Linked DNA regions of Homo sapiens: region 1 is linked to region 2. Evidence: fine-mapped QTL for protein levels in blood plasma. Region 2 holds a variant in brackets. A gene starts in the other region. All regions are shown on their reverse strands.

Region 1 (15,232 bases), not on the chromosome of region 2:
CTCTGCTAATTTCCTTCATTAATTTTTACTCTCCAAATCCCTTACTATGAAAAGAACTAATTGCCCATCCTATGAATAATCCTGGAACTTCACTAAAGCAGTATATTTTTCTAGAAAGCAAAATGTACTATACAGCAGCTGTGTGTGTGTTGAACACTATCAAAGGAGGTTTAGCTATTAAATAACTAAAAAGAACTTATAATACAGAGTACATTACCCCAGCAGGTACTCAAAAATGAATTTGCTCTAACATTCCCGGAAGTACATTTTCATAAAAGATGGCCATTAGTACAGTAATTGAGAGGATTTAATACACACATCATTAAATGGACAACAATATTTAAATCAAAATGAAAACAGAAGAAAGCCATGAATATCAAATATCCTTCATTAGGGAACTAATCAGTTGTTTCTCTTTCTTTAAGTCAATGAATTTTTTCCTTATCCTTATGTAGGTAGTTCTCTCACCTCCATCTACTACTAAACAATTTGGAGCAGTAATTTAAGATATTACAGCCTGTTGAAGCAAATTATCTTTCAGCATTTGCCACTTTCTAAAAAATGATAAAATGGTGAAAGTGAAAAAAAATAGCTTAAGAACATATCATTTCACAGAGCCTTCTCACTATAGACACCTACCTTACTTTGCATTGGTGAGCAGATGCTGTGGTGACCCAAACTAAAAGCTCTTGGTTCATTTTATACCCTTCAGGATAATCCCTCTGATCTTCTTGTTTATACAATTGCATTTGATTTACTGCTTTCTTATCTGAAAAGCATCTATTGAAAATTCATACTGAATTCCAAATAAAATGTATTTAGACAAACAAGCTCACAATATCTTTACCTGGAAACTGACATTATTAAAGCATGCATTTTCCTCTCTTCTGTTTCAAAATAAAATTACCTTTTAAATATATTCTTTATTAATATTTATTTATTAATATTAATAAAAGATAGATACAGAATGGGAAAAACCAAATTCAAAAAACACTCTAACATCATCTAAATAAGTCTTGGGAATAAAAATTTATTTGGGGCTTGAGGGCTTCAAGTTTTACCTAAATGTTCATGTAAAGATATATAAAATTATTCCTCATCTAAAAATTTTGTTTAGAACAAAATGTGTAGTTCAAAATATTTTTGGGGGATTTTAAGATATTAAGTAAAATTTACACATGTGAAAGAATGACTCTGAGGAACATGGCCACATCTGACAGGATGTCAAGCTGACCTGAGATAAAATTTTGGCCCTGCCATTTACTTGCCATATGACATTGGCATGCTTGACCTCTTCAGTTTCTATTAAAAGGTAATATCACTTCTCTAATGATTTGTGGTGTGAGCATTTTTTCATATGCTTATTGGCCATGTATATATCTTCTTTTGAAAAGTGTCTGTTTATGTCTTTTGCCCACTTTTTAACGGGGTTCTTCAGTTTTTGCTTATAAATTGTTTAAGCTCCTTATAGATTCTGGATATTAGACCTTTGTCAGATGCATAGTTTGCAAATATTTTCTCCCATTCTGTAGGTTGTGTGTTTATTATGTTGATAGTTTCTTTTCCTGTTACATCAGGTAACAAAAGTACACGATCCTAGAGAGATGGGAAACAAACAGGGAGAAACTGCCTGGAGAAAGTTTCTGGGCCATAATGCAGAAGCCCTTTAGTTAAAGGTCCCATTTGTCAACTTTTGTTCTTGTTGAAACTCCATTTGTCGTCTTCGTCATGAAATCTCTGCCCGGTCCTACATCTGGAATGATATTTCCTAGGTTATCCTCGAGGGTTTTTACAGTTTTAGGTTTTACATGTAAGTCTTTAATCCACGTTGAGTTGATTTTTCTATATGGTGTAGGGAAGGGATCCAGTTTCAGTCTTCTGCATATGGCTAGCCAGTTATCTCAGCACCATTTATTGTACAGGGAATCTTTTCCCCATTGCTTGTTTTTGTCAGTTTAATTGAAAAAAGAATGATTGTCAAATCAGGCAGCCCTCAGAATCAGAAGAGATTCACAGAGCTCTGCTCCTCAATGTGGGCAGACAGCATTTATGGACAGAAAGTAGAAATGAGATATCGAAACAGCTTGATTTCATTATACATCAGCACTTGCCTTACTTGGACAAAGTCTGATCAGCTGGCTGCCTGTAATTGACTGAAGCTCAGCTGCTGTGATGAGCTGAAATTCAGCTGTCTGTTACAAAAGTATACTCCTAAGTTAGGCTTTCAGGTAGTGTACATACTAAGTTAGGTTGCAGTTCATTATGTAGGAACTCACAAAACAGAGGTATCCTCAGGCCACATTTAGTTTAACAGATATATACCTAGAAATGGCCATGCCAGGGTCCAAGGTCTTGGGAATGTGAGCTACTATGTAGTAAGATAATTTTGAAAACAGGGAAACTGGAAATGAGTGTGCCAACCTAATTTCAGACAAGATGCTAACACAGGAATATGATAAATGGAAGAATGTTGGATGTGTGTTTCTAATGGAATTAGTGCCTCCTTTGTATAAAGCATTGATTCAGGAACTCATTTTCTAGCGGATTTATATACCTATCCCTGGGAGATATATGTATGTATGTGTGTGTGTACATATGTAATGGACAACTGATAGACACTTGGCCTGTTACTAAAAGAACTATAATAAATACCATGCATTTGGGTAGTGATTTTCTTGCTAAAGAGGCCTTAGTGTATATGATCTCATACTGTTAAAAGAATCCAGGCATGTTGAATTTGTGCTTCTGATCCAGGTTTACTTTCTCACCTAAAATAATTATAAAACAGTACAAAATATATAAAATAATGTCTTTATACATATTGGACATCAGGTAACAAAAGTACATGATCCGAGAGAGATGGGAAACAAACAGGGAGAGACTGCCTGGAGAAAGTTTCTGTGCCATAGTGCATGAAAAGTTACCAAGGCAGAGGCCAGAAGCATCACCAAATTGAAGAGATAGACCTGGGAGTCCATGGATCCCCAAGGCAGCTAGAGTTCACAAGAAAGACATTATCAAAAAAGAAAACCACAAACTAATAACCCTCATGAAATGAACATAGATGCAAAAATTCTTCACAAAATTTAACAAAACAAAATAAACAATATGTAAAAAGAATAATACATCATGGTCGAAGTGGAATTTATTTCAGGAATGCGAGTTTAGTTTGCATTCAATTAAGAAAATTCACCCTACTAACGGGCTAAAAACTAAAAGCCTTATGATGATCCCAATGGAAACACACACACACACACAACCACATACACAAAAAGCATTTTACAAAATCCAACATAGATTCCTGAAAAAATTTTCGGCAAACTTGGAATAGAAGAAAACCTCCTAACTTAATAAAAGGCATCATGGAAAATTTATGATTAATATCATGCTTAATATTGAAAGACAGAGTACGTTTACTCTAAGATCAGGAAAAAGGCAAAAACGTCTGCTTTTGCATCTTCTATTAAACACTGTGCTGTAAGTGCAATGTTAACGCAATAAGCCAAAGGAAAAAAGACATTCAGATGGGAAAGGAAGGAGTAAAATTTTATTCACATACGACATGACCATCTATGTTGAAAATCTTACTGAATCGCTGATTTCAAGATGGTAAACCTATGGTAATTAAGAAAGTGGTGTTAAGACAGATCATTGGAACAAAATATGGTCCAGTAATAAACCTGTACACATGTGGTCAAATTATTTTCAAGAAAGGTGAAAACAAAATTGAGTAGAAAATAAATAGTATTTTCAACAAATGGTGCTGGAACAATTCGTTATCCATATATAAAAATAAATACTTTTTAAAAATAAATAAATAACTTCAATACATATCTTGCATTATATACAAATATTAACATGAAATATAAAAACTAAAATTCTAACATTTCTAGAAGAAAGCATGGAATAAAACTTTTGTTAGGGCCGGGCGAGGTGGCTCACGCCTGTAATCCCAGCACTTTGGGAGGCCGAGGCGGGCGGATCACGAGGTCAGGAGATCGAGACCATCCCGGCTAAAACGGTGAAACCCCGTCTCTACTAAAAATACAAAAAATTAGCTGGGCGTAGTGGCGGGCGCCTGTAGTCTCAGCTACTTGGGAGGCTGAGGCAGGAGAATGGCGTGAACCCGGGAGGCGGAGCTTGCAGTGAGCTGAGATCCCGCCACTGCACTCCAGCCTGGGCGACAGAGCGAGACTCCGTCCCAAAAAAAAAAAAAAAAACTTTTGTTAGGCAAAACTTGAATTAGGCAAAACTTTCTTAGATATAACACCAACAGCATGATCCATTTTCAAAAAATGATAAATTGGACTCCATCAGAATTAAGAACTTCTCTCTTCGAAAGGCATTGTTAAAAGAACGACATACCACAAACTGAAAGAAAAGAAACTTGCAAATTATATATAAGATAAAGAACTTGTATACAGAATATATGAAGAACCTGCTATACTCAATTATAAGAAAAAAATTATCCAATTTTTTAAATAAGCAAATGTTTGAATAGACATTTCACAAAATTATGTAGATGGGAAGTAAACAGATGAAAAATTTTCATCATTAGTCTCAGAGATAAGAAATTAAGACCTCAATGACAGCACTACACACGTCTTGGGCTGCCTAAAATTTAAAAATTGGAAATACCAAGGGTTAGCAAGGATGTGGAGCAATCGAAATTTGTATACAATGTTTGATGGAAACATAAAATGGTACAAGTTCGTCAGTCCATAAGTCTCTCAAAAAGTTAAACATACACCTACAATATGACCCAATCATTCCACTCCTCAGTATTTATCTAAGAGAAATAATAAGATATATCCATACATGAACTTGTACATAAACATTTATAGCATCTTTATTTTTAATAGCCCCAAACTGGAAACAACCTGAATGTCCATCCACAGGTGATAAACAAATATGTCATATATATGCAGTAGAATATGTGTCAGCAGTAAATAGGAATAAACTACTGACACAGCAGTGACATGAACATCAATAATTATGTTATAATCTTAATGTTATTAAGACAGACCAAAACAGAGTACATGCCATATAATTCAGTTTATATAAAATACCAGAAAATACAAATTAGTGTAAGACAGCAGACTAATGATTGCCTGGGGATGAGGAAAGGCAAGGAAGGGGAAGAAAGAGGGATTTCCAAGGGGCAGAGGAAATATTTAGGAGGTGAAAAATGTGTTCATTATCTTGATTGTGATGATGGTTTTACAGGATATACATATGTTAAAACCTACCAAAATATATGCAGGGTTAGGGGTTGAATTATGTACCCCCAAAATTCAAATGTTGAAGTTCTAACCTGTAGTATATCAGAATGTGAACTTATTTGGAAATAAGTTCATTACAAATGAAATTAATTAATATGAAATAATACTGGAGTAAAGTAGGCCACTAGCCAATATGATTGGATATATCCCCTTCCAAAAAGAGGACACTTGGACACAGACACATGAACAAGGAGAATGCCATGTGAAGAATGAAATTATGTTGCTTCAAACCAAGGACTACCAGAAGCTGCAATAGAGGCCTGGAATACATCCTAGCTCAGCAGCTTCAGAGGGAACATGGTCCTGCAGACACTTTGATCTTGGACTTCTGGCCTCTAAAACTGTAAGAAAATAAATCTCTGTTGTTTTAAACCACTCAGTTTATGGTACTTTGTTATGGCAGTCCCAGGAAACTAATATATGCAATTTATTGTATGTCAATTATACCTCAATAAAACTGATAAAAAATATGGTAGGTGGAAATCATCTGTGCCTACTTGTCTAACTTCATGTCATACCCACCTCTCTCCACCTTTTATTTATTATGTCCCTTAGAACATTCCAAACTTGTTCTTGGAACAGTGCTTTTACATTTGCTATTTGTTCATTATGGAGCAACCTTTCAACAAGTCTTTGAATGGCTTTCTCCTTATCATCTCAGCTTAAAAATTACTTCTTTAGAAAACCCTTCCTTGACCACCCAGTCTAATGCAGCCTACTGCCACTGTCACTTTTTATCCTGTTATCTCATATATTCTTCATTGCACTTAGCATTTTCTGATACTATATTATTTGTTTATATACTTATTCTCTGTCTCCCCCTTTCCAACCAGACTGTAAGCAATTTAAATGGAAGCTTTGTTTGTCTTGCTCATCACCATATCTTCAGAATCCAAACCAGCCTCTGCTATATATTAGGTACTCAGTAAATATTGATTACATAAATAAATGGAAACATAGATCCTATTCTGACATTTTGCATCCATGGAGAGGTTATTTAATGCTCTGATGTTCTATAGATAGTTATAGGCAAAGTCAGGCTAAAATCCAAGTTTCTTGACATCGTTTTTGTTGCATTAAAATTTTAACTCATTTTCAAAGAAAAACAAACACTCGTACTCTTTACTTAGCTAAACAGAGAAGTGGCATTAAAATATGAATCAGATTTACTGACATTATCCTTTACCCCAAAGATTGGGTACTTTTCTAGCTCCTACTATTCTCTATATCCATAAAATTCTAAAATCCTGGGCAATATAGACACTTTTAAAATAATCAGTTTAGCCATCTTAAGCCTGAGTTATCAGTAACAGTCATATTAAAATGGCCTGCAACATGAAACAAAACCTGTTTGTTTACTTAATTCCTTTCCATGCTTTTTTTCTTAATACAGATAATTGGTAGCAAACAGAGTTCACCCTATCTGCATATTGAGCATTTTATTATTTTAAAGCTCTCAAGTGAGAAGACAAAATTGATTTAATATGTATAAAAATTATGTCAATTTGCTTTTCTCTTTTGGTAACAGATTAAAGCCCCTTGTATACCAGATTTACATGAATGTATGCAAGTTCTTTTCTATTTCAAAACATTTTTTGAAATTAAGGTCATCTATAAATGTTAATAGAAATTGCTAACATCTTCTGTCATAAAATTTGTAGTGTTATAAAGTCAGCTTGGTATCCAATTTTCCTTACCTGTCTGTCAAAACTAGTTTCTCTATCCCTTAGTATAATATCTTTCTTTCTACTTATGTTACTTTATATAACCTCTTGGTAATTAGATATTATTTATCTGGCTGAATAATGTGAGCAGTATTAATTGTATTCACAATAACAGGTATAACCACTTCTCAGCAACTAATGAACAATATGCTATTAATCTCATCCAAAAATTTTAAACTTTTCTTATCTTTTTTTAGCACACCTTTTATTTCTAAAGAAGTTTGCAGTATGATTATATGCAAAAATTAATCAAAAATTTAGTTAGCAAATTAATCAGTGGTAGTCACAGAATAACAAATCCATAATGTAGTTAACTTGTCTCACTACATATGTATGAGTTTTCCTAGTGTTTAGAATTATCTTCTATTGGGAACAATGGCTATTCATGAACTCATTAATTCATTTGTTCAACAAATCTATGGGATTTCCACCTCATTCCAGACACTGCCCTCAAGAAACTCCTTCTTACCAGTCATCTTCTTCACACAGCTATAAAATAACAGTCCAGACCTCTCCTTGAGCCCCAGACCCATGTATCCAACCCCTACAAGACATCTCCAATTACACGTTCCACAGGAACTTCAAACTCAGTGAGAACCCTGAATCCCAGGGACTGAGTTACGTTCTCCTTCTTATACCAGCATATCGCCCTCTGAGCTTACTCCCAAAAGAAGGCAGGAGAAAGGCACTAAGCCAGCTATTCTAGCCCAAAATATGAACCAGGTTTGGTGAACCTCCCCATAGGTAAAGTCAGTAAAGGAATAGGGAGAGGACCAAAATGTGTTTAGGTAAACACATTTTGATTTCAAGGAAGTCAAGAGTAGGGAAAAGCTCTTCCCTGCCTGGCACAAGAGGAGGCCTCCCAGTCTCTACTCCAGCACTACTAACCATTGTTTTCATTGGTCAGTGCCCAGACTATTCAGCTTCTCCCAAAAGCCCCACATATTTCTGCTTTCACCCATCAAGGATTCACTGGTATAAGAATTTCTCTTCTACTAAAAACAGTTAGAAAACAGGGCAAAATATATGAACCAATTATTCATAAACTTTGGATAATAGGCACCACAAGGCTGATACTGAAAGAAAAGAAACAAATAAATTAAGCCCTACGATTGTCCTAGAAACCTGAAGGCAGTTTCTAGGCTACAGCACAGAGAGGGGGAGCCAAAAAGAGACTATACTCTTAAGGAATTGTGAAGAAACGTATAGAAGTTCAGGGAGTCTGAAATGCCTAGAATTTTTAGGACAGAGAAATGAAGAGGAGGGAGCTGCCTAGAAAGAAAATCTGGAGATCTGAAAGGGGTTTTCATTGAGTCTTCAACTGATGACCAATTTGTATATGATGGGGTTGAAACTAGGAAGCCAAGGAAAGATCACTGAAAATCAGGAGGCTGAACAATTCCTCGAGCTTACTTACGTCTAAAAATAGTTTGTGCTTCCATAAGCCAAAGTGGAGAAGTATTATAATACATAATTAGGTAGAGTCCTCAGAGAAGTCATGCTTTAAAAGTGAGGATAAATTAACTCTAGAGTTAAGGCTGCTCTGAACCTTCCTGAACAAAGATAAAAAGGAACTTTCAAAAGGATTGAGTGAACCAAGTAACATGAATGTCTGCCAGAACAAAGTTCAGTATTCCTTTAAAAAAATACAACAAAATATAACTCACTTATTAAAATGTAAAATTAACAATGTTGAGCATCCAATAAGAAATTACTAGGCATGCAAAGAAATGAAAAATATGACCCCTACCAGAAGGAAAATCAATAAATAGAAACAGGCTCAAAATGGCAGAAATAATGAAATTCACAGACAAGAACCTTAATAGAGCTTTTACAAACATTTTTAATACGTTTAAGAATCTAAATGAAAACATGAATATGAGGAAAAGAGAAATAAAAGGTATAATAAAAGACCCAAATGGAACTTCTAGAGATTAAAAATACAGTATCCAAAATGAAAAAAGAAAAGTCACTGAATGAACTGAAAAACAGAGTGGATTGTTCAGAAGAAAATATCAGTACACTTAAAGACACAGCAATAGAAACCATGGTAGCCAACCTCCAAGATGGTAACAATGGTAGCCAACCTCCAAGATGGTACCAATGATCCTCAATTCCTCGTACTTGTGTCATTGTGTAATACCCACCCATTGTGTAATACCAGGATTTGATATGTCTGTGTGATCTTCAGATTGGAGCAGAATTGAAGTTATGTGATTCCTAAAGCTGTCATAAAAGACATTCCACTCTCATCTTGCTCAGTTGAATCACTTGCTATGAGGGAAGTCAGCCATCAAGTCACAAAAACACTCAAATGACAGCAACTGTGGAGCAGTCCAAATGGCAAAGGACAGAGACCTCCTGCCAACAGTCAGAACCAACTTATCAACAATGTAACTGAGCCATCTTGGAAGTAGATCTTCAGCCCTTATTAAGTCTTCAAATGACTGCAATCCTAAGACAGTATCTTGACTGCAACTTGATGAGAGACACTCCAAGCCAGAACCATTAGCTAAGTCACACCCAAATTCATGATCCACAGAAATCATTTGATATATGTTTATCGTTGGTTTAACCTATTAATTTTTAGAATAATTTGTTGAGCAGCAACAAATACCTAATTCAGAGACTACTTAAAATGAATAGCACATGGAAAAAAAGTTTTTTAAAAAGCCTTAGCAGAATAATATCAAGCAGAATAAAATACATGTAATTGGAGTCCAGAATAAAAGGTGAGAATTAAAGTGGGGACCAAAAAAAATTGAAAATATGTGGCTAAAATATTTCCAAATTTGATGACTATAAAACCGCAAATCCTAGAAGTTCAATAAAACCCAAGTGAAATAAACATTTAAAAAACAATTAGGCTTTTCTCCCCCATGATGGAAGATTAGATGCTTTTCTAGCATCCTTCACCTACTTGGAAGAAGCAAAACAGTGTTTAGAGATTCACACTCAAAAAGGAACACAAGAATTCAACAGAAAAGCAAAGGACATTAGCCTTTTGTCAGATGAGTAGGTTGCAAAAATTTTCTCCCATTCTGTAGGTTGCCTGTTCACTCTGATGGTAGTTTCTTTTGCTGTGCAGAGGCTCTTGAGTTTAATTAGATCCCATTGTCAATTTTGGCTTTTGTTGCCATTGCTTTTGGTGTTTTAGACATGAAGTCCTTGCCCATGCCTATAAATCATGCTGCTATAAAGACACATGAACACATATGTTTATAGCAGCACTATTCACAATAACAAAGACTTGGAACCAACCTAAATGTTCAACAGTGATAAATGGGATTAAGAAAATGTGGCAGGAGGAGCCAAGATGGCTGAATAGGAACAGCTCCAGTCTACAGCTCCCAGCGTGAGCAACGCAGAAGATGGGTGATTTCTGCATTTCCATCTGAGGTACCCTGTTCATCTCACTAGGGAGTGGCAGACAGTGGGCGCAGGACAGTGGGTGCAGTGCACCATGTGCCAGCTGAAGCAGGGCAAGGCATTGCCTCACTCAGAAAGTGCAAGGGATCAGGGAGTTCCCTTTCCTAGTCAAGGAAAGGGGTGACAGACGGCACCTGGAAAATCGGGCCACTCCCACCCAAATACTGTGCTTTTCCAACCAGCTTAGGAAACAGCACACCAGGAGATTATATCCCACACATGGCTCGGAGGGTCCTACGCCCACGGAGTCTCGCTGATTGCTAGAACAGCAGTCTGAGATCAAACTGCAAGGTGGCAGCAAGGCTGGGGGAGGGGCGCACACCATTGCCCAGGCTCGCTTAGGTAAACAAAGCAGCTGGGGACCTCGAACTGGGTGGAGCCCACCACAGCTCAAGGAGGCCTGCCTGCCTCTGTAGGCTCCACCTCTGGAGGCAGGGCACAGACAAACAAAAAGACAGCAGTAACTTCTGCAGACTTAAATGTCCCTGTCTGACAGCTTTGAGGAGAGCAGTGGTTCTCCCAGCACGCAGCTGGAGATCTGAGAACAGGCAGACTGCCTCCTCAAGTGGGTCCCTGACCCCTGACCCCTGACCCCAGAGCAGCCTAACTGGGAGGGACCCCCCAGTAGGGGCAGACTGACAACTCACATGGCTGGGTACTCCTCTGAGACAAAACTTCCAGAGGAATGATCAGACTGCAGCATTCACGGATCACGAAAATCTGCGGTTCTGCAGACACCACTGCTGATACCCAGGCAAACAGTGTCTGGAGTGGACCTCTAGCAGACTCTAACAGACCTGCAGCTGAGGGTCCTGTCTGTTAGAAGGAAAACTAACAAACAGAAAGGACATCCACACCAAAAACCCATCTGTACATCACCATCATCAAAGACCAAAAGTAGATAAAACCACAAAGATGGGGAAAAAACAGAGCAGAAAAACTGGAAACTCTAAAAAGCAGAGCGCCTCTCCTCCTCCAAAGGAACACAGCTCATCACCAGCAATGGAACAAAGCTGGATGGAGAGTGACTTTGATGAGTTGAGAGAAGAAGGCTTCAGACGATCAAACTACTCTGAGCTACAGGAGGAAATTCAAACCAAAGGCAAAGAAGTTGAAAACTTTGAAAAAAAATTTGGACGAATGTATAACTGATGGAGCTGATGGAGCTGAAAGCCAAGGCTCGAGAACTATGTGAAGAATGCAGAAGCCTCAGGAGCTGATGCGATCCACGGGAAGAAAGGGTATCAGTGATGGAAGATGAAATGAATGAAATGAAGCGAGAAGGGAAGTTTAGAGAAAAAAGAATAAAAACAAATGAATGGAGCCTCCAAGAAATATGGGATTATGTGAAAAGACCAAATCTATGTCTGATTGGGATACCTGAAAGTGACGGGGAGAATGGAACCAAGTTGGAAAACACTCTGCAGGATATTATCTGGGAGAACTTCTCCAATCTTGCAAGGCAGGCCAACATTCAGATTCAGGAAATACAGAGAACGCCACAAAGATACTCTTTGAGAAGAGCAACTCCAAGACACATAATTGTCAGATTCACCAAAGTTGAAATGAAGGAAAAAATGTTAAGGGCAGCCAGAAAGAAAGGTCGGGTTACCCACAAAGGGAAGCCCATCAGACTAACAGCTGATGTGTCAGCAGAAACTCTACTAGCCAGAAGAGAGTGGGGGCCAATATTCAACATTCTTAAAGAAAAGAATTTTCAACCCAGAATTTCATATCCAGCCAAATTAAGCTGCATAAGTGAAGGAGAAATAAAATACTTTACAGACAAGCAAATGCTGAGAGATTTTGTCACCACCAGACCTGCCCTAAAAGAGCTCCTGAAGGAAGCACTAAACATGGAAAGGCACAACCGGTACCAGCCACTGCAAAATCATGCCAAAATGTAAAGACCATCGAGACTAGGAAGAAACTGCATCAACTAACGAGCAAAATAACCAACTAACATCATAATGACAGGATCAAATTCACACATAACAATATTAACTTTAAATGTAAATGGACTAAATGCTCCAATTAAAAGATACAGACTGGCAAATTGGATAAAGAGTCAAGACCCATCAGTGTGCTGTATTCAGGAAACCCATCTCACATGCAGAGACACACATAGGCTCAAAATAAAAGGATGGAAGAAGATCTACCAAGCAAATGGAAAACAAAAAAAGGCAGGGGTTGCAATCCTAGTCTCTGATAAAACAGACTTTAAAACAACAAAGATCAAAAGAGACAAAGAAGGCCATTACATAATGGTAAAGGTATCAATTCAACAAGGAGAGCTAACTATCCTAAATATATATGCACCCAATACAGGAGCACCAAGATTCATAAAGCAAGTCCTGAGTGACCTACAAAGAGACTTAGACTCCCACACATTAATAATGGGAGACTTTAACACCCCACTGTCAACATTACACAGATCAATGAGACAGAAAGTTAACAAGGATACCCAGGAATTGAACTCAGCTCTGCACCAAGCAGACCTAATAGACATCTACAGAACTCTCCACCCCAAATCAACAGAATATACATTCTTTTCAGCACCACACCACACCTATTCCAAAATTGACCACATAGTTGGAAGTAAAGCTCTCCTCAGCAAATGTAAAAGAAGAGAAATTATAACAAACTGTCTCTCAGACCACAGTGCAATCAAACTAGAACTCAGGATTAAGAAACTCACTCAAAACCACTCAACTACATGGAAACTGAACAGCCTGCTCCTGAATGACTACTGGGTACATAACAAAATGAAGGCAGGAGTAAAGATGTTCTTTGAAACCAGTGAGAACAAAGACACAACATACCAGAATCTCTGGGACACATTCAAAGCAGTGTGTAGAGGGAAAGTTATACCACTAAACGCCCACAAGAGAAAGCAGGAAAGATCCAAAATTGACACCCTAACATCACAATTAAAAGAACTAGAAAAGCAAGAGCAAACACATTCAAAAGCTAGCAGAAGGCAAGAAATAACTAAAATCAGAGCAGAACTGAAGGAAATAGAGACACAAAAAACCCTTCAAAAAATTAATGAATCCTGGAGTTGGTTTTTTGAAAGGATCAACAAAATTGATAGACCACTAGCAAGACTAATAAAGAAAAAAAGAGAGAAGAATCAAATAGACACAACAAAAAATGATAAAGGGGATATCACCACCGATCCCACAGAAATACAAACTACCATCAGAGAATACTACAAACACCTCTACGCAAATAAACTAGAAAATCTAGAAGAAATGGATAAATTCCTCGACACATACACTCTCCCAAGACTAAACCAGGAAGAAGTTGAATCTCTGAATAGACCAATAACAGGATCTGAAATTGTGGCAATAATCAATAGCTTACCAACAAAAAAGAGTCCAGGACCAGATGGATTCACAGCCGAATTCTACCAGAGGTACAAGGAGGAACTGGTACCATTCCTTCTGAAACTATTCCAATCAATAGAAAAAGAGGGAATCCTCCCTAACTCATTTTATGAGGCCAGCATCATCCTGATACCAAAGCCGGGCAGAGACACAACCAAAAAAGAGAGTTTTAGACTAATATCCTTGATGAACATGGATGCAAAAATCCTCAATAAAATACTGGCAAACCGAATCCAGCAGCACATCAAAAAGCTTATCCACCATGATCAGGTGGGCTTCATCCCTGGGATGCAAGGCTGGTTCAATATATGTGAATCAATAAATGTAATCCAGCATATAAACAGAACCAAAGAGAAAAACCACATGATTATCTCAATAGATGCAGAAAAGGCCTTTGACAACATTCAACAGCCCTTCATGCTAAAAACTCTCAATAAATTAGATATTGATGGGACGTATCTCAAAATAATAAGAGCTATCTATGACAAACCCACAGCCAATATCATACTGAATGGGCAAAAACTGGAAGCATTCCCTTTGAAAACTGGCACAAGACAGGGATGACCTCTCTCACCACTCCTATTCAACATAGTGTTGGAAGTTCTGGCCAGGGCAATTAGGCAGGAGAAGGAAATAAAGGGTATTCAATTAGGAAAAGAGGAAGTCAAATTGTCCCTGTCTGCAGATGACATGATTGTATATCTAGAGAACCCCATTGTCGCAGCCCAAAATCTCCTCAAGCTGATAAGCAACTTCAGCATAGTCTCAGGATACAAAATCAAAGTACAAAAATCACAAGCATTCTTATACACCAATAACAGACAAACAGAGAGCCAAATCATGAGTGAATTCCCATTCACAATTGCTTCAAAGAGAATAAAATACCTAGGAATCTAACTTACAAGGGATGTGAAGGACCTCTTCAAGGAGAACTACAAACCACTGCTCAATGAAATAAAAGAGGATACAAACAAATGGAAGAACATTCCATGCTCATGGGTAGGAAGAATCAATATCGTGAAAATGGCCAGACTGCCCAAGGTAAATTATAGATTCAATGCCATCCCCATCAAGCTACCAATGACTTTCTTCACAGAATTGGAAAAAACTACTTTAAAGTTCATATGGAACCAAAAAAGAGCCCGCATCGCCAAGTCAATCCTAAGCCAAAAGAACAAAGCCAGAGGCATCACACTACCTGACTTCAAACTATACTACAAGGCTACAATAACCAAAACAGCATGGTACTGGTACCAAAACAGAGATATAGACCAATGGAACAGAACAGAGCCCTCAGAAATAATACTGCATATCTACAACTATCTGATCTTTGACAAACCTGACAAAAACAAGAAATGGGGAAAGGATTCCCTATTTAATAAATGGTGCTGGGAAAACTGGCTAGCCA
Region 2 (16,088 bases):
GAACCTTTAATGTTCATGGAAAAGGATATAAGAAGTCATAAGTTGGATTGCTCTTATTAACCCCGGGGTTGTGTTTCTAGACCAAGGACACATATTATTTCTGGCCCAAAAGTCTGTTCAGGTTGCCGGGAAAGTTGGACCTCCATCAGGAGGGGTGATTTATTTGGGGATATGGAGGCGACCCTATAGCTTTACCTGAATAAACCCAAATTTGAGATTTGACTATGGAAGGAGTCCTTCCCTGACTCTTTTGCTGGTTTTGAGCTTACCAAATTGAGCTCACCAAATTTTGGTTTGTATTTGCATCTTATGGTTCATTCTGACCCAAGCTAACCTGCATCCTCAAAGGATGTGTGGCCAATAACTTCCCTAAGGTACAGCATACAGGAAAAGGACTAGGACGTGGGCAGCTACATGGGCTCACCAACTGACTCTCCAACCCTGGTCATATCGCCTGGCCAAGGAACTTGAGTTTATCTCTCTATAAATTCTAGGGCTTTGGTTATTTCTCACTTCACAGGATCACAAGCATATAGACTCATTGTCTTCCGCTGACCAGCAATAGTACAATAGTATGGGGCATTTTTTGGGGCCCCATAGAATGAAGACACTACCATTCAGCTGATGATGCTGCCCCACATATTGTGCATCCTAGGCATGCCCATCCCCCACCAGTAACCTCAGGCAGCAGTCCTTATACTGAGCTTCTCTCTGGTGCCCATGGCAACCCCAGCTTTTAATGCTGAAATGTTACCACAGGGTTGCTTTTTGGTTTGGAGTTTTTTTTTTTTTTTTTTTTTTCTGGAATCTTTTTGAAATGAACTGTTGATGTTGCAGTTTTTGCACATCCTTCAACTTGTGCAGAATTCCGTCGGAACTTATGAGCCTGAATCCAATCAGGTTCACTAAGACGCACTATCTAAAAGCTGACTTATGCAAAAAATAAAAATAAAAATAAAATAAAATAAAAGCCAAAATGCATTCTTACTGATTAAACTTGCCTTTTAACGAAAGCGCTTGGTATTTCAGAATTAATTTTCCTCCTTTCATATTCTTTCTTAATTACAATAGAGAACTATTTTTGGGAACAAACTTTTGCAAATCTTTACTTCAAATTTATGTGAATATACACTGTGTGTGCACATGCAAATACCTAAATGAATATAAAAGTACATAGATATTCTGTATCAAAGTTCTGTATACCTTTCTTTTCAATTTACTAATTCTCTAGGCTAGCATATAAAATGGATGGACATTAGTTAAGGACAGAATCTTAAAAACCTACTGTGTACCAATATATTTTTTAAATTACTTATTACTCCTTTGTACATTCTTTAAAATCAATTTTTGATTTTTAAAAGAAGACACAAACATCAGTTTCTGAGAAGAAATTTGCTAGGGTCCTGGCTGCATTTAATAATATTTCCTGGTTTAACATCTTTCCTCCCAGAGTGCACACTTACACTGATTTAAGGTCCTCACACTTTCACTGAAATTGTTTATCCATTTTTGCTTTTCTGATACAATTATTATTGTTTTAGCTTTTTAAAATCTCTTTTAAAATTGTATTCATTTAATGTGTCTGTCTTTAAGATATTAAAAATCCTTCATTTGTATGTCACCTGTTAAGGGAACGTATTCTATGAACTGCAATAGAATGCCAAGTTAATTAGAAGAGCCAGAACTCTATTCTGGAAGCACCCACCTCTGAAATGCAGCCGCTTCTTGGATAAAAAGCAACAGCTGTGTGAAAGCATAGTGCTGCTAACACTGCACACCTGCTTAAGGCAGGAAGTAAATGGAAAGGTTTTCTCTACCTGAATTTGCAAGGGGCAATTTTTAAAGCTGGAATGGGATAACCCCACATGGGAATTTGATCCAACCACTCAGGAGTAAATCTTGCCTTATAACACATGATGGATAAGGACATCCTTATCAGAGAGAGGCATGTCCTTGGGGTGAAGAGAAAGGCTGCCGCCTATGGCATTATTGAGGGTAGCAGCCACAGGGTGATTTCATTCTCTTCTTGTGTCCACCCAAGATTCAAGTTGAACCTACCAGGAATTTAGGCAAGACTTGGTGGCCTGCAGCAGTTGTAGGGAGGCAGTTACATACAGTCACTCGCTACATATGAAGAGGAGCTTTCTGGCTGCTTTTCGGAAGGACTAGCCCAGGCAGGAGGAAGTTTAACCTGACTGGTTTGCTAAGCAAGACCAGGTAGTTACTAAAAGAGATGGTCTTGGCCAGGTGCAGTGGCTCATGCCTGTAAACCCAGCACTTTGGGAGGCTGAGGTGGGAGGATCTCTTGGGGCCAGGAGGTCGAGACCAGCCTGGCCAACATGGTGAAACCCTGTCTCTACTAAAAATACAAAAATTAGCTGGGCCTGGTGGCTCATGCCTGTAATCCCAGCTACTCGGGAGGCTGAGGCAGGAGAATCACTTGAACCCAGGAGAAGGTTGCAGTGAGCCGAGATCACACCATTGTACTCCAGCCTGGGCAATAGAGTGAGACTCCATCTAAAATTAAAAAAAAAAATGGTATTTTCCTGTGAAGGGTTCCATTAATTATCCATGTGGGCTGGAATTGTTTCTCTTGAACAGTTACTGATACAGATATTCAAACAGTTAATGAGACTCCATCTGTATAGGAGTTTCCAAGTGGGAGTGCAGGCCGAATTGATTAGTTTTAGATGTGAGGCTTTTTTTTAAGCAAGAAGAAAACCCAGAGTCCAAACAAACAGCATTTGTAAAGTTCGGAAAAGACGTTGCTACCAGAAATGGGGAGAGAAAAAAAGAATACTTTTGAGCAAACCCTACTTTCTTTAAAATGAAAAACAATGGTAAAGTTTCCATATGTAATTAAAATCTCATTCTGAAGTTACCACGCCACTGGCTCCGAAAGAACTCAATTAACAGGAAACGGCAAAGAATATGGTATTTTCTTTGAGACGCTTTAAGAAATGCTCCTAAGTAGACAATGGGTTGGATAGTAGCTGTTACCTACAAAAGGATAAGCAATTATGGTTCATTCCAGGGAGAAAAGGGGAGAGGATAAGGCTAAGAAAAGTAGGTTTATAATGTGGAAATTAGATTTTCAAGTGTGCATATTTATCATCAGATCTATATTGAAATCCAGGCTGTACAAAGTCTAACTTTACTTAAGAAAATTACCTTATTAAAAAAAAAAAAACTGCACCCTCATTTAAAATATTTCATCTGAGAAAGGAAAGGTGATCACTCCACGCTCACCTCAGGTCTCCTTTCCCAGATAGACTTCCTTTTCTTACAGTTGAAAACTAAATACACAGTCCTGGGGACCAGCTCAGTTTCCAGAAGTTGGTTCTCCCGATGTCCCTGACACTAGCAGGTTTAATTCAAAGTATAGAAGGCGACCTCCGTAGGTGTGTGGTCATTGTGGAAAGAACGGAAGAGACCATTTAGGTCACTCTGCATGTTAGCGAAGTTGAAAACCAAGCCAGTAAGCAGTGAGTGATTTGATGAAGCAGTGCTTCAGGTGTCTGCCTCTTTGAGTTCGCTGAAAAGTTGGATCTTACATATTTAGCACCTGAAACAACCGAAGGCTTACGGAGGACACTGACAGACTGGGGCGAGGAGGGTCTCTGCCTCCCCTGAAGACCTGGACCACCCTCCACACCTGGGCAAGTGCTGCAGCGGTGCCTGCTATTAGAGTTAAGCAGCAAGGGCAGCGACACCTGGGATGTAAAAAAAAAATAATTATAAATAAATAAACACTAGCAAACTACCTGTTAGTTTCTACCTGTGAGGACCTAAGAAGACTAAACAAACAGCTCCTTAATTTCTGGACTTTCCCTTGGATCACAGAAGGAGACCCTGGGAATTTTCTGATTCCTTCTTTCCTTTTTTTCTTTTCTTTTTTTTTTCGGTCTTAATGGAGATCTTGAACTGCAGAGCCGCCGTGTCAGAACTCAGATGGTTAACATTCACTTCTTGCTGTTTTATTGCATATTACTGTGCGCGCCTGAGCAGCGGGAGCAGATTCGGGCAATTACAATCAAGTCAGGGCACACGCCGCGGCGGAGCAACACGAGCATGATGAGGATACTGATGAGGCACTTATCGAAAACCCCACATCATCCACACTCATCAGCCACAACATGTCACCCCAAATGAGGCATCAGCTGCCTTCAAAAGGCTCATTGCACAGTGTTTACCGCTTCCCTCGGACCCACTTTTGATTTTACGGTCAGAACTGGGTTCAAACAGCAGCTGTCTGGCAAGGGCAGGTCTGCGGCTCCTCGCAGCTTCCGCGGGAGTCGGGAGTCCTGGGGCTTTGTCTGGGGAGCTTTGGGGAGCAGGGGCTGGCAGGGCGAGGGGACGCGGAAGGCAGAGAAGTGTCCAGTTCCGTTTCTCTCAAAGAGGAATCCCTTTCCCAGAAGGGGCCCTTGATTAATTTCAAGCAGTAGCACACAGTGGTGGCATAACGGGGGGAGTAGGAGGGAAGCCAAATAAGGAGGCTTTCACAGGTCTCCTTAAAATGGTAGCAGGGTGGGTGGGACCTCTCACGCAGACAGAAGTCCTAGAAAGATCAGTCTCTTTGGAAAAGACAGATCCAACCAGTGGAGCCGTTCAAGTGGTCACAATTTTTAATTCTTTCCATCAACAACTCCTTCTTGGGTGGTTGGGGGAGGCATTCGTTAGCAATCTATAGGAGGACTTCCCCCCATCTAGTTTTTCTGCTGTAGAAGGAAGATATATTCCTAGTAATACTCCTTAAAACTATTCTTTGTTTTTACTCCTTGAAACTCTTCCTTGTTGCTTTGGGTTAATGCAACTTGCAGCTAAACACTTGTTGGGGGAATCTAATTGTTTACACTTAAAGAATGTGAAAACCATTGCCATCTATGTTTCAGTCTGTGTCTTTCCTGGTAGGGGGAGTGTGTTAGGCTGATACCAACTTTGCACATATTTGTAATGACTGGATTAATCAATGCCATTTATTTTAAAGCTAAATGTTCATAATTTTGTAAAATTCACCCTACAGTAAAACATTTTCCAGTTAGATCTAGACCAATTGATCCAATACCAATAAAAGCCACATAGGCTTTCAATTTTTCACTCATTTGAGACCTTTTCAGCCCCCTCCCCTCAAGCCCCAGTGAATGCTATCTTAGCCATCCAAAGTAAGAATGAAGAGCAGCATGTGGCAGGGAAGAAAGGGGAACCTCCTGCCCCCAGTCATATGATCTGTCCTAGAGACAAGGCCACATGCAGAGCATTGTTCAGCAAGGGGGCAAGGGAAAGTTAGGCAGGTTCAGAGAGACGATGTGGACATAGGGTAGACCAACAGGCAGAGCCACACACCCTAACCAAGGTCCAGAATCCTGGGACTTAGAAACAACCTCAGTGTACCTGTAATAAATCTGGAGTATACCTTTGGGTATAGAGAGTGTCATGAACTCCAGTCTTTTTCAGTTTCACCATATCCATTGCTACTTTCTTTTCGCTGTTTTTTTCTACATAATTCTACAGCAGTTGGCATTTGGCTTTTAATAGGATTTTAACATCTTTACAAAAAATGGGGAACCACAGAAAATAAGTAGATCTCTAGGTTTGAAGAGTTTTAGTAGTTTTGAGAAACTAATTTACTTTTTCTGGTAAGTCATTTTATCCACTTTTAGATGTTAACAAACTAGAGCTGCCAGGAATTTCAGGAAAGGTGTTCCTTTCTGTCTATTCCATCTCAGGGGTTCTGCTCACCTTCTTTCCTCCCAGATCCCTTCCTCTTCTAAACTTTTTAACTCTCCTTTCATGTCCCTGAGCTGATAATATTCTAGTTTGGCCCATTTTGCCCAAACTCTTCTCTAGCTTCTGGGTTTTTTTTTCCTAAGTTTAAGCCCACATGTTTGTACTACATGCTGGGATTCAAGGGAAAATCCCACGACATGGTCTAGGATGGTGACTATAAACCTCAGAGCATCACTTGACTTAATAGCTCCAAAAGAGTCAAGACAAAAGGAGGCAAGTTTGTGCCTACATTTCCTTTGTCATCCTGGATCCCTCAGGGCCTCCAGGCTTCATGCCCCAATAACCTGTGTTTATTGCATGATTTCAGGTGAATACTACAGGGAATAGGAAATGTGAATGCAGAAAAGAAAATGGGTGGGTACTACGGGATAGGAGAGAGTTTGGGAAGGTTAGATTAAAAAGTAACTCAAGGCTAAGATTCATATTGGTCCTTCTAAGTTTTGCCTATGACTCATTTTCACTAAGTGATATCTCATAATCTTTAACTTAGTATTTCCTTTAGAGCTCTCCTAGTAGGTGACCTCTATTGATGATATAGAAAGAAAATGAGTATTTAATTAGAGTTCAACAATTGATTACGGAGAGGATTCATTAAACCATCAGATGTATTTATATGGACTTAGCAACCTCTATCAACAATGCCTGCCAAGATCATTGGTTCTAGGGGTTGCAAATATTAGTCATAATTCCTTAGGAAATTTTAATATTGGTGGTGTGTGTGTTTAAAATTTTTACATATATTGGATACTCTTCAATATCTTGCTACTGATAGAATTCAATGCTGGGAGAAGCAGAGGGAAGATTGCAAATGAAAATGCAGCACGATAAATTCTAGACAGTTATCCAAACCAAATTAAAAGGAATTATTCATGTAGAAGATCAGAGGAATTCACTGGTCAGATGGCTATTGAGGCCCCTAGTTCTCAACCTCTGGTTTAGGAATCTGGAGAAAAACAATCTTGCAGGATCCTTCCTGGGAGCTTCAGAGAAGATCTAGGCCAGAAAGAGACAGTTTTCATGTGTGTATGTGCATGCAGCATGGAGTGTGTGTGTGTGTGTGTGTGTGTGTGTGTGTGTGTGTGTGTATCTCTTTGTGGGGTCATCATCTAACGCTCTTTGTGATGCACATTCTAAATTAGGCAAAAGGGATGCATCTTTCAAATGCAGATCATGTTTGCATTAGAAGAGCAATGAGAACACTTGTCAGTTTCAGAACATTTATGTGCTAGAAGTACTGTTAGCAGAAGAGCAGTTTAGATAAATTCAAGACTTTTTTTGCTGATCACAAACATTAAGCTTCACACCTGAAGCCCTCAACCCCCTGCTGTGCTCTAATCCTAGCACCATTCACCCTTAGAGACTCAGAGTGCTGTGCCTCAGCTCTCAAACCTTTGATTGCCCTTAGTTTGAATGCCACCACCTGCAAAAATGCCTTTTTATTCCCTTTGAGCCTCTTGAGAAGGAAGTAAAAATGATAATTCATGACAAACATTAATTAATTGTTTACAAGATGATCTTTTCTTTTTCCAACTTCTGTTCAGCAGACATGTTGAACTGCAAGATTCCACTCGCGACGCCAGAATTCGTCAAGAGGCCTGCATTGTTGTTTCGCACTGAGGCATAGGACCGGCTACAGGCCATTGTTTCTCCAGCTCAAGTGGGCCTGTCTGGTTCGTGTTGGAAGAATGAGGGTGACATGC[G/A]TGAGTTCCCGAGTATAAAAGAACTACTGGTTCTAGGAAGGAACAGGAGGTTAGCCACTAATGCAGAGTAAATAAACATTTTTCACCACCTCTTGCTCCATGTGATTTTTAAAGGTCAAGAGCTGCCATTACAGTATTTTAAAAGCTTCAAATTACATTTAAAGAATGTATCACTAAACTCACAGAAACCTTATCAGAATTTAGGAACCTACTGTGATTGTTTGGTCCTTGAGTTTATCATCCCACTGGAAGGTGGATTGTAAAAGGAAGGCAGATGCCCCGTTGTTTCTGATATCCTGCAATTTGCTCAAAGTGAATGCTGTTCAAGTTCTTCCAAATTTCCCTTCAAAATATGGAAAGTGTTAAAGACACTTCAATTTCAAAATCTTATACAATCTACATTGCAGGTCAAACATTTAGGGCAGGGAAGAATAAGCCTCTGGGGCCTTTCACGACAAACACGTTCAAAATGCAAAGAGATGTTCATGTTCCCTTGAAACTTCCAAATGTATGTGTGTGAAAGAAAAAGAAGTAAAAGGCAGAGGGAGATTTCTTTTTTAAATTAAAGAATAAAAAGCTTACTTCAAGGAAGTGTAGAGTAACAGCAGAAAGACTTCCTCAGCAACTGAGGTTTTCAGATTTCAAATTAGGAGCCCTTAGATCACGGCTGCTAGGCTAAAAATCAATTCTATATTTTCTGAGTTAATACTAAGGATTGCACTTAACAGACATGGAGACTAATAAGGTATGCAGAAGGAGTAAAAGCAGCGCACACACACAAATTCAGGCCTTAGTTTTGGCCATGATCCAGCACAATGATGTTTCAACCAGATTTGAAAAAAAAATCAATAACATCTGTGGTATAATGGTTAATTAAAGCAGCTCTTCAGCAGAGCTCAGGAGGAGAGGCTCAGCCTGAAATTCAGACAGCTGAAGCTTGATTATCAGGAAAGAATGCTTTTTTAGCTATGAGTGGATAGGCCAAAAGCTGCAATGTGCCGAAATGGGGAGAAAAATTGCTTTTATTTTAACTTTCTTTAAGTAATCAATACATGCTTTTCACCTGCATTAGGACACTGCTCAGCTCCAAAGGCCTGTTACTCCACTTCAGCATAAATTCTAGCTACTCTCTTTTAAAGCTTCGGTTTAAAAAGGAGTCCCCATCCCCTGTAAAGCAAAAGAAAAGAATATGCAGGTTTGGGTGCATGTTCTTGACACCAGTTAAAGCTCAGGCTATAGGATGGTCCCAAGGGTTTAATCCATAAGCTATGTGCAAAGCTGCCCCAATCTTGGAGTACACAGAGGTCATAGCCAGAGTACTAAGGCTTCACAATAGAACTAAAAATTCTCGAGGGAACTGTGAAGGGCAAGGCCAAATTTCCCACTGCTTTTCGTCTTCCTATTGTTTTGAGTACTGTGCTAGGGATGTTTTCTTTACCTTTTTGAGGGCAAAGCTCAATGAATCAACAATGATGCCTCTTGCAAGGTTAGTAGGTGACTTTTCCAAAGAAAAAAATAATTGTTAACACCTCGTCTATTTTCTTAACACTTTGCTTCGGTTTCTATTTTGGATATTGTTCCTGGACAGTGGAATCTGTGTGTTCACGTCATCATTGTCAAATTTCAAGATGCATTTGTAAAATGATATTGCCCCCTCTGGATTACACTAGTTCTCCTATAGCATATGGTTAGTTAATTGTTCATTCATTTTTTCATTCAGCAAGTTTTTCTTCAGTGCCAAGCATGTGCCTATCACTATGTTGGGTGGTTTCTGCCCTAGGAAGCTCATACATAGCCTGTTTGAGGGCTGCGTGCTTGTGAACAATTAATTGCAAACACAGTGGGAAAATAGCCCAAATACAAGTGTCTAAAATGGCTAAAAATGTTTAAGCACCCCCCCACCCCGAGTCAACTGCACTTGGGAAGAGACAGAGGGAAGGTTAGGGAGCCTCAACAGGGAATATTCTCGGAGCAAAATCATGGAAGATAAGGAAGTGTCTCCAGGAAGACAAGGAGAAAAAGGCAGAGAAGGCATTCAGAATTTACATATACTTATGTGAATTATAAGTATCAATTCAGAAGAATATATATGAAAGAAGTGATATATATATATCTTATAAAATCTTCTAAATTAATCTTTGGAAATTGATACATGATAGATATATGTATTTTCAAGGTACGAATGACATTTTGACACATTCATATGATATGTAAAGATCAAATCAGGGTAACTGGAATATCCATTACCTTAAACATTTATTTTTCTCCTAGGAACATTCAAATTATTCTCTATTAGACTGGTGCAAAAGTAGTCACACCATTTTGCCATTACATTAAAAGTAATGTAATGTGATTTTAATATCACATTATAACTAATGGCAAAGTGGTGTGATTACTTTTGCACCAACGTAATAGCTATTTTGAAATGTACACCAGATCACTGTAAACTAGAGTCACCCTACTGATCTATCAAACACTAAGTCTAACTGTATATTTGTACCCATTAATCAATGTCTCTTCATACCTTTTCTCTCTGCCCTTCCCAGCCTTTGATAACCACCAGTCTACTCTATCTTCATGAACTCCATCTATTTGCTTTCACACGAGTGAGAACGTGCTATCTTTGTCTTTCTGTGCTTAGCTTACTCACTTCACATAATGAACTCCAGTTCCATCCACATTGCTGCAAATATATTTTACATCATCTATCCTTATTTTAAGAACCATCAGGATCACGGATTCCAACACCTTCCTTTATAGCTATCACAATCAAGCAGTTCTGTCCTTCCTCTGACCACACTCTCACTGGAGGTTAAAATTCATTGGTATCTTCTCTTCTCTAAAACACAGCAACTTTGCGTTTTACTCAGGGATCCATTTTTTCATCCTATGACTTTTCTTTTAACCTATTTCTGGGTCCTTTCCAGATTCTCTTTCTTTCTCCATAATTTCAAAATGTGAAGTAGATTTAAAGGAGCCAAGAAGCTGGTCTGCCCATCAGTATGCTATGCCCTAAAGTATACTTTAGAAGAACTAATAATAATGCCCAACACTTTTCATCTTAAAAACGTTGGTCTTTGGGTAAAATCCTGCTCCCCCACCTACTATGTGATCATGGGCAAGTAATATGATCACTCTGGGCTTCAGTTTCCCATCTAAAAAATGGGCATAACAACAATAGCTACCTCATAAGGTTATAATGTGGATTCAGTGAGTTAATATTTATAAGTGTTTAGAACAGTGCCCGGCACAGAAGAATTGCTGTCAGTGATTGTTGAATAAATCATAGTTACCAGCACCTATTTTGCGCATGATTTCCTGAGTGAGGCTTTGTGTCCCCACCCAAATCTCATCTTGACTTGTAATCCCCATAATCCTCATAATTCCCACATGTCAAGGGAGAGACCAGGTGGAGGTAATTGAATTCTGGGGGACCATTTCCCCCAGGCTGTTCTCATGATGGTGAGTGAGTTCTCACGAGATCTGATGGTTTTATAAGGGGCTTTCCACCCCTTTTCTGGGCATTTCTCCTTCCTGCTGCCTTGTGAAAAAGGTGCCTTGCTTCCTCTTCACCTTCTGCCATGACTGTAAGTTTCCTGAGGCCTCCCTAGCTATGCTGAATTGTGAGTCAATTAAACCTCTTTCCTTTATAAATTACTCAACCCTTCCCCGCTTTGATATAGATCAATTCTCAACTATCATTTTGAGTTTGATTTTTGTCCTTTAATGTATTAGCAACTCATATGTAGAGCCAATTATTTACTCACAATTTTTTATTTTGTTTTCTGTCTTAAGATACTTTTAAAATCATGTTGCCAGATTTTATTCCTTAGCAAAAGAGTAATGTCGCCTTTACATTTCTGTGTGTAATTTCTATGATTTTATATCTTGAGGACTGATTTTTCATTCTTGTGTTTGTTTTCCTGATTTGGTCTTTATCTTCTTCCTGGTAACTGGTGTAATTTCAACTGTTGCAGCCATTTATTTAGCATCCTGTCTTTAATTCTTTTTAAAATAAGGAAGGTTTAAATAATTAAATTTAAAGTGCAAATAATTTGAGCAACTACCAATGTAGGCACCATACTGTCTGTTGGGAATACACAGATGTGATGTATATTGGTGAGGCTTTGTTTCAGCCACTATTGACAGAAACTTAACTGTGCGGCTTAAATACACTCAGGTTTATTCTTTTGTGTAAATTAAGACTGAAGTCAGCTCAGGGGATGATTCCAAAGAATTATCAAAAAACCCCAGAGTCCTTTCTCTCCTATTTTGGTTTTCACCCTCAAGGCTATCTCACAGTCCAAGACAGTTGAAACATCAGCTGCCACCTGTATCGCAGGCAGCAGGATGAAAGATTAAAGGAGTTTTTCTCAGAACTCTCAGCAATTCTGCTCATATCCTATTTGTCAGAACTCAGTCACATACCTAGCTGCAAGAAAGGCTGGGAGACATAGACTTTATTCTGGTGCCACTTATCTAACCAAAAGTCAGGCTTGTGGGGCTAAGCAGGAATGAGAGAATGAATTTCAGTGTCCAAATAGCAGTGTCTGCCACAAAATGGTTTATGGCAATGAGGAGCTCAGTGTTTGGTGGTAATGACAGACACTCAGATAATTACAGTCTAATGAAATAAGTGCTAATTAGTTTTACATAAAGTTATTGGTGTCTTTTTATTTCTATTCATTGATATGATTTACTCTCCTTAAAAGTTTTCTTCTTCCCACTTCCTGCTTCCATCCCCACTCCCACAGGCTGAACAGGCACAGTGAAATGTGGTTTTATCAGATTTCCCAAAGGACAGTCTCCATTGATTTGCAGGAACTTATGTAAGTGTGTGTCTCACCTACAAGTCACAAAGCCACTGAAGAGTAGGGAGTAGGCCTTGGTTATTTTTATAAAGAGATCATGCTTGGCTTGGGGGCTGCTCCATGGTCACTGATAAGATGATTTCCTGCACTTGAAAAAGTGTTTTTTTAAAAGACTATTTGGTTCCTCCAGGCTGCTTTTCCACTGAAGAAGAATGTCCACCTCCAATATTTGTACTGATGTAGAATGACTTTCCTGAAGTTCTGGTCTCATTCTGTTTACCAAATAGCATACAACTTTAGGCATATCCTTTAATCTCTCTGGCCTGCTTTCTCCCAAATATTCTTATCTTGTTATTTTAAGCATGGGAAAAAAATGAAAGTAACATTATGAAAATATTTCATGTTTCTCTAAAGGCCTTACAAATCATAATTGGTTAGAATTTTTTTCCATTTGGCAAGGAAAAAACTGTATACATATACACAATGTAGATTTTTTAATAGGAATAACACCCTAGTGAAGATCAAATGAATAGGTTAAAAATGCTTTGAAAATGATATTAAGATATTGGTGTAATGTTAATTTTTTGTCTGTTTATATAAACATAGAAGGCTATATTATGTTTGTTAAATTAATAAGTTTCTGACTTACAAAGAACATAAAGGAGGTAGTTTCTGTTCTTGCAGTTAGGGAGGAAATATATACATACGAAACTACTGGGAAAAATTTCATTGCCATATGTAACGATAAGCATGATAAAGGGGTTTATATTGTGCAGACAGGCAGTTCATAAATGTTGAAGCATTGGTTGAAAAATCTAGCAACACATATGAAGAATAATTTATTCAATAATAGTTATTGGTAGGAAATAATGGGAAAGCAATAAGGATTATAAAGCTAGAATGAATTAAATAATACAGCAAAGGTGATACTGACACAATGTAAAATCTTGCTGCTTGAATATTCAAAACCTGCTGGTCAGGTAAACTCTATCACTAAATTTAGTACACTTCTAAGTGAAACTCATTTAATTTTTATTTTCTGAATTAATTTCACTTGAGAGAATACTAAAATAGACTCATGGCCATTTAGCTAGCAACATCATCAGCTAAGTGATGCCTATTAGAGAATTTCAACCTTTTATCAGTGTTTTGTTTCAGAGGCTTAACCATTATACACTAAATACATCATTAGAAGAACGAATAGCAATGCCTAGCACTTTTCATCTCAAAAAGCCTTTTATGCACATTAACAAATTAATTCAAATAACTCTTAGCAAGGCAAACTGTATACAAAATAATTCCCATTTTACAGATAGGGAAATAAGGTTAAATTACTTAAGGGAATATTCACACAAGAGAAAGGCAGGGGTTGAGATGGTTATATCCACAGTGAAATCAAAGTTCTTGGATTCCCAAAATGTGTTCTGGATACTCTGTCTTTTACTTCTTAAATGCTTTTTTACTCTTAGACTAGATAATAGAATCAAACTCAATAGTAACAGGTCTGACCTGGAACAAGTACTAAGAACTTGCTGTGCTGTGCCTAGCTCATTGCTAGTTATCTTTGGGCATCACAAATATATCCTGACTTGTGGTCACCTGTCTTCTTTATCATTTATTAATAGTCTCTTGTTCTCAATTTCATCATATATAAAATTCACAGAATAGCTTCATACTTATTAACCATATATACTTACCTCACATTCTTATATGAAATAAAGGATGTGAATGTTTGAAAATCAAGGAACTCCGTTTCAAGTGTCTTCTGCATGGTACCCTCTGATGTATCCACTCCCAACTCCCCTAAAGACAGAGAAAGAAAACCTCACACCGACTAAAACTAACAACTCTGCCAGAATGGTGGAAGAATTTTTCCTAACTATAAGCCTAATGAAGCTGGAATGAGAAAAATAATAATCAGCCTATGATACGTCTCAACAGAATAGGCCCTGCTCACCTGTGGCCAATATTTCCGACTGGCTTATACAATAGTGATACCCAAGCCCCCTCTCCTTTGCCCCAGAAAGGCTTGCTTTCCAGACATGCCAGTATAGCCCCCTCCTCCTTCCTGTTGCCTTGATTGTGAAAGTGAGAGTGCAGCCGTTTTGAGACCATGTGGGGACACGCATGTGGATGAAAATCCAACACTCTAAGGACAGCAGAATAAAAAGATGGAAAGTGATAACAGTTGAATCTCTAGGCCAATCCCGAAATTGCGTACTTCCAGACGTGATAGGTAAATTAATATTTCTACAGACTATTCAACTGCTAAGACTTTCTGTTACTCATAGCTGAAAGCACTCCTAATGGAAATACCATGCAGAAGATAGTGGGAAGATACGGGGTTTCACCATGACTATCTCCTCTCTGGCTTGGGTTGAAGACCTAGCTGGCAGCTTTCTACTTCTGTGCAGATGCTGCATTTTAAAGTAAATCATTTTTATTTGTGATTATAAAAGCATCAGTGTACATTGTAGAAAATATGGAAAGTCAGAAATACAATGGAAAGATGAAATAACTCATAATCTCACCAGCCAGAGATAATAATGATTAATATTGTACTACATATTTTTTGTATGCATAAATATACATATATTCTTTTAAAATTTTAAAACAAACTTGAGATAATGCTGTGTTGGTTTGCAGAAATCTTTCTACTTTTCAATATTTTTCATATTTTCTATGCATTTAGATATCTACGACATTATCTTAATGGCTAAATGGTATTTTACTATGGAAACAGCATTTATTTAATCAGTATCCTATTAGTCATACAGACTATTTCTAAATTTTCACTGTCACCAACCCCAAACTAAACAATTCGCATATGTCCAAGATTATTTTCTTAAGGTGTGTTCTTAAAAGTAGAATTACTGTGGTCAAAAGAAGCATTTACACTTCAAAGGCTTACAACACCATTTCTAAATGGTATTTCAAAACCATGGTTATAATTTGTACTCCTGGTAACAGTGTAATAGGGATCTATTTCCCTGAAGTTGGTATACCTTCAGAGGAAACCAAAATATTGTCCCACATTAACTCCATATTTCCTTAACTGTTCACATCCTGAAATTGCCTTTCCAAGAAATCAATCAGAAACAAAGTGGGAAGGTGGGAGAAGATTAGCAGTGGTGCACAGGGACTTGGCAAGTGCACTCCCTGCTGATAAACAGTCAAGGCTAAGGCAGAGTGGGCTGAGGCAGGTACAGCAACAGCACTTGCTGCAGAGTGTAGATATTTGTGTGTTTCAGAGTTTTGGAGTGTCAGCAAATCAGGCTGCGGAGTGATAGAGGATCCCATCTAAGTGTATTACAGCCAAAATAGGGCCACTGCTTTGAATGAAAAATGATATCAGAAATACTCTCCCCACCTTCCATTTCTCCCCACATAAAAAGATAGCATTTTCTACAGATAATTAAAAAAATGGCCTCAGATTTCTGTTCTTCAAAGTACATATCAAAATTATATATAGAAAATGAGAGGGGACAAGGTTAGTGTCTACATCGGTTGTACTTGGTGCAGAACCAAGTTGTCCTTCATATGTGAAGCTATTAGAATCTTAGGTCTAAAGTATATTGTGCTGCTCCAGTAGGGATGCATCCAATATATATGAACATGCGATACATATTATAATAGATGCCTAGAATCATCTTTATCTAATATAAAGTCCATCAATGATCTCTATTACCAAAGATGTTTTTAAACAACAATAAAGTCTATTAAGGAAGCCAGCCATGTACGGAACTTAAGCTAAAGCAGGAGACATTAATGCAGTTCACAGATCTGGAAA

Which allele goes with the higher level. Positions count from the first base shown, and alleles are read on the strand shown. Strength reflects both the effect of a copy and how common the allele is.
With allele A in place of G in region 2, the plasma level of the protein whose gene starts at base 674 in region 1 is lower (weak association).

The links. PIP is the posterior inclusion probability: the model's chance that the variant is causal. Protein levels are from antibody-based Olink assays in UK Biobank. Linkage for the fine-mapping came from a reference panel and not from the study's own genotypes, which makes the PIPs less certain.
Region 1: TSHB starts here. The variant in region 2 is fine-mapped to the plasma level of the TSHB protein (UK Biobank, PIP above 0.99).

Annotation. Positions count from the first base shown.
Region 1 is chr1:115,015,268-115,030,499 of GRCh38, reverse strand. It overlaps TSHB (thyroid stimulating hormone subunit beta), which reads right to left and starts at 674. Exons shown (of 3, transcript NM_000549.5): 1 at 640-674.
Region 2 is chr14:36,260,555-36,276,642 of GRCh38, reverse strand. LOC124903302 (a long non-coding RNA gene) reads left to right here and starts at 3,361. Exons shown (of 2, transcript XR_007064116.1): 1 at 3,361-4,224; 2 at 7,332-7,575. LOC107984003 (a long non-coding RNA gene) reads right to left here and starts at 3,360. Exons shown (of 3, transcript XR_429356.5): 1 at 3,250-3,360. RefSeq lists an enhancer at 3,683-4,182. The variant G/A (reference allele first, on the strand shown) is at 7,488.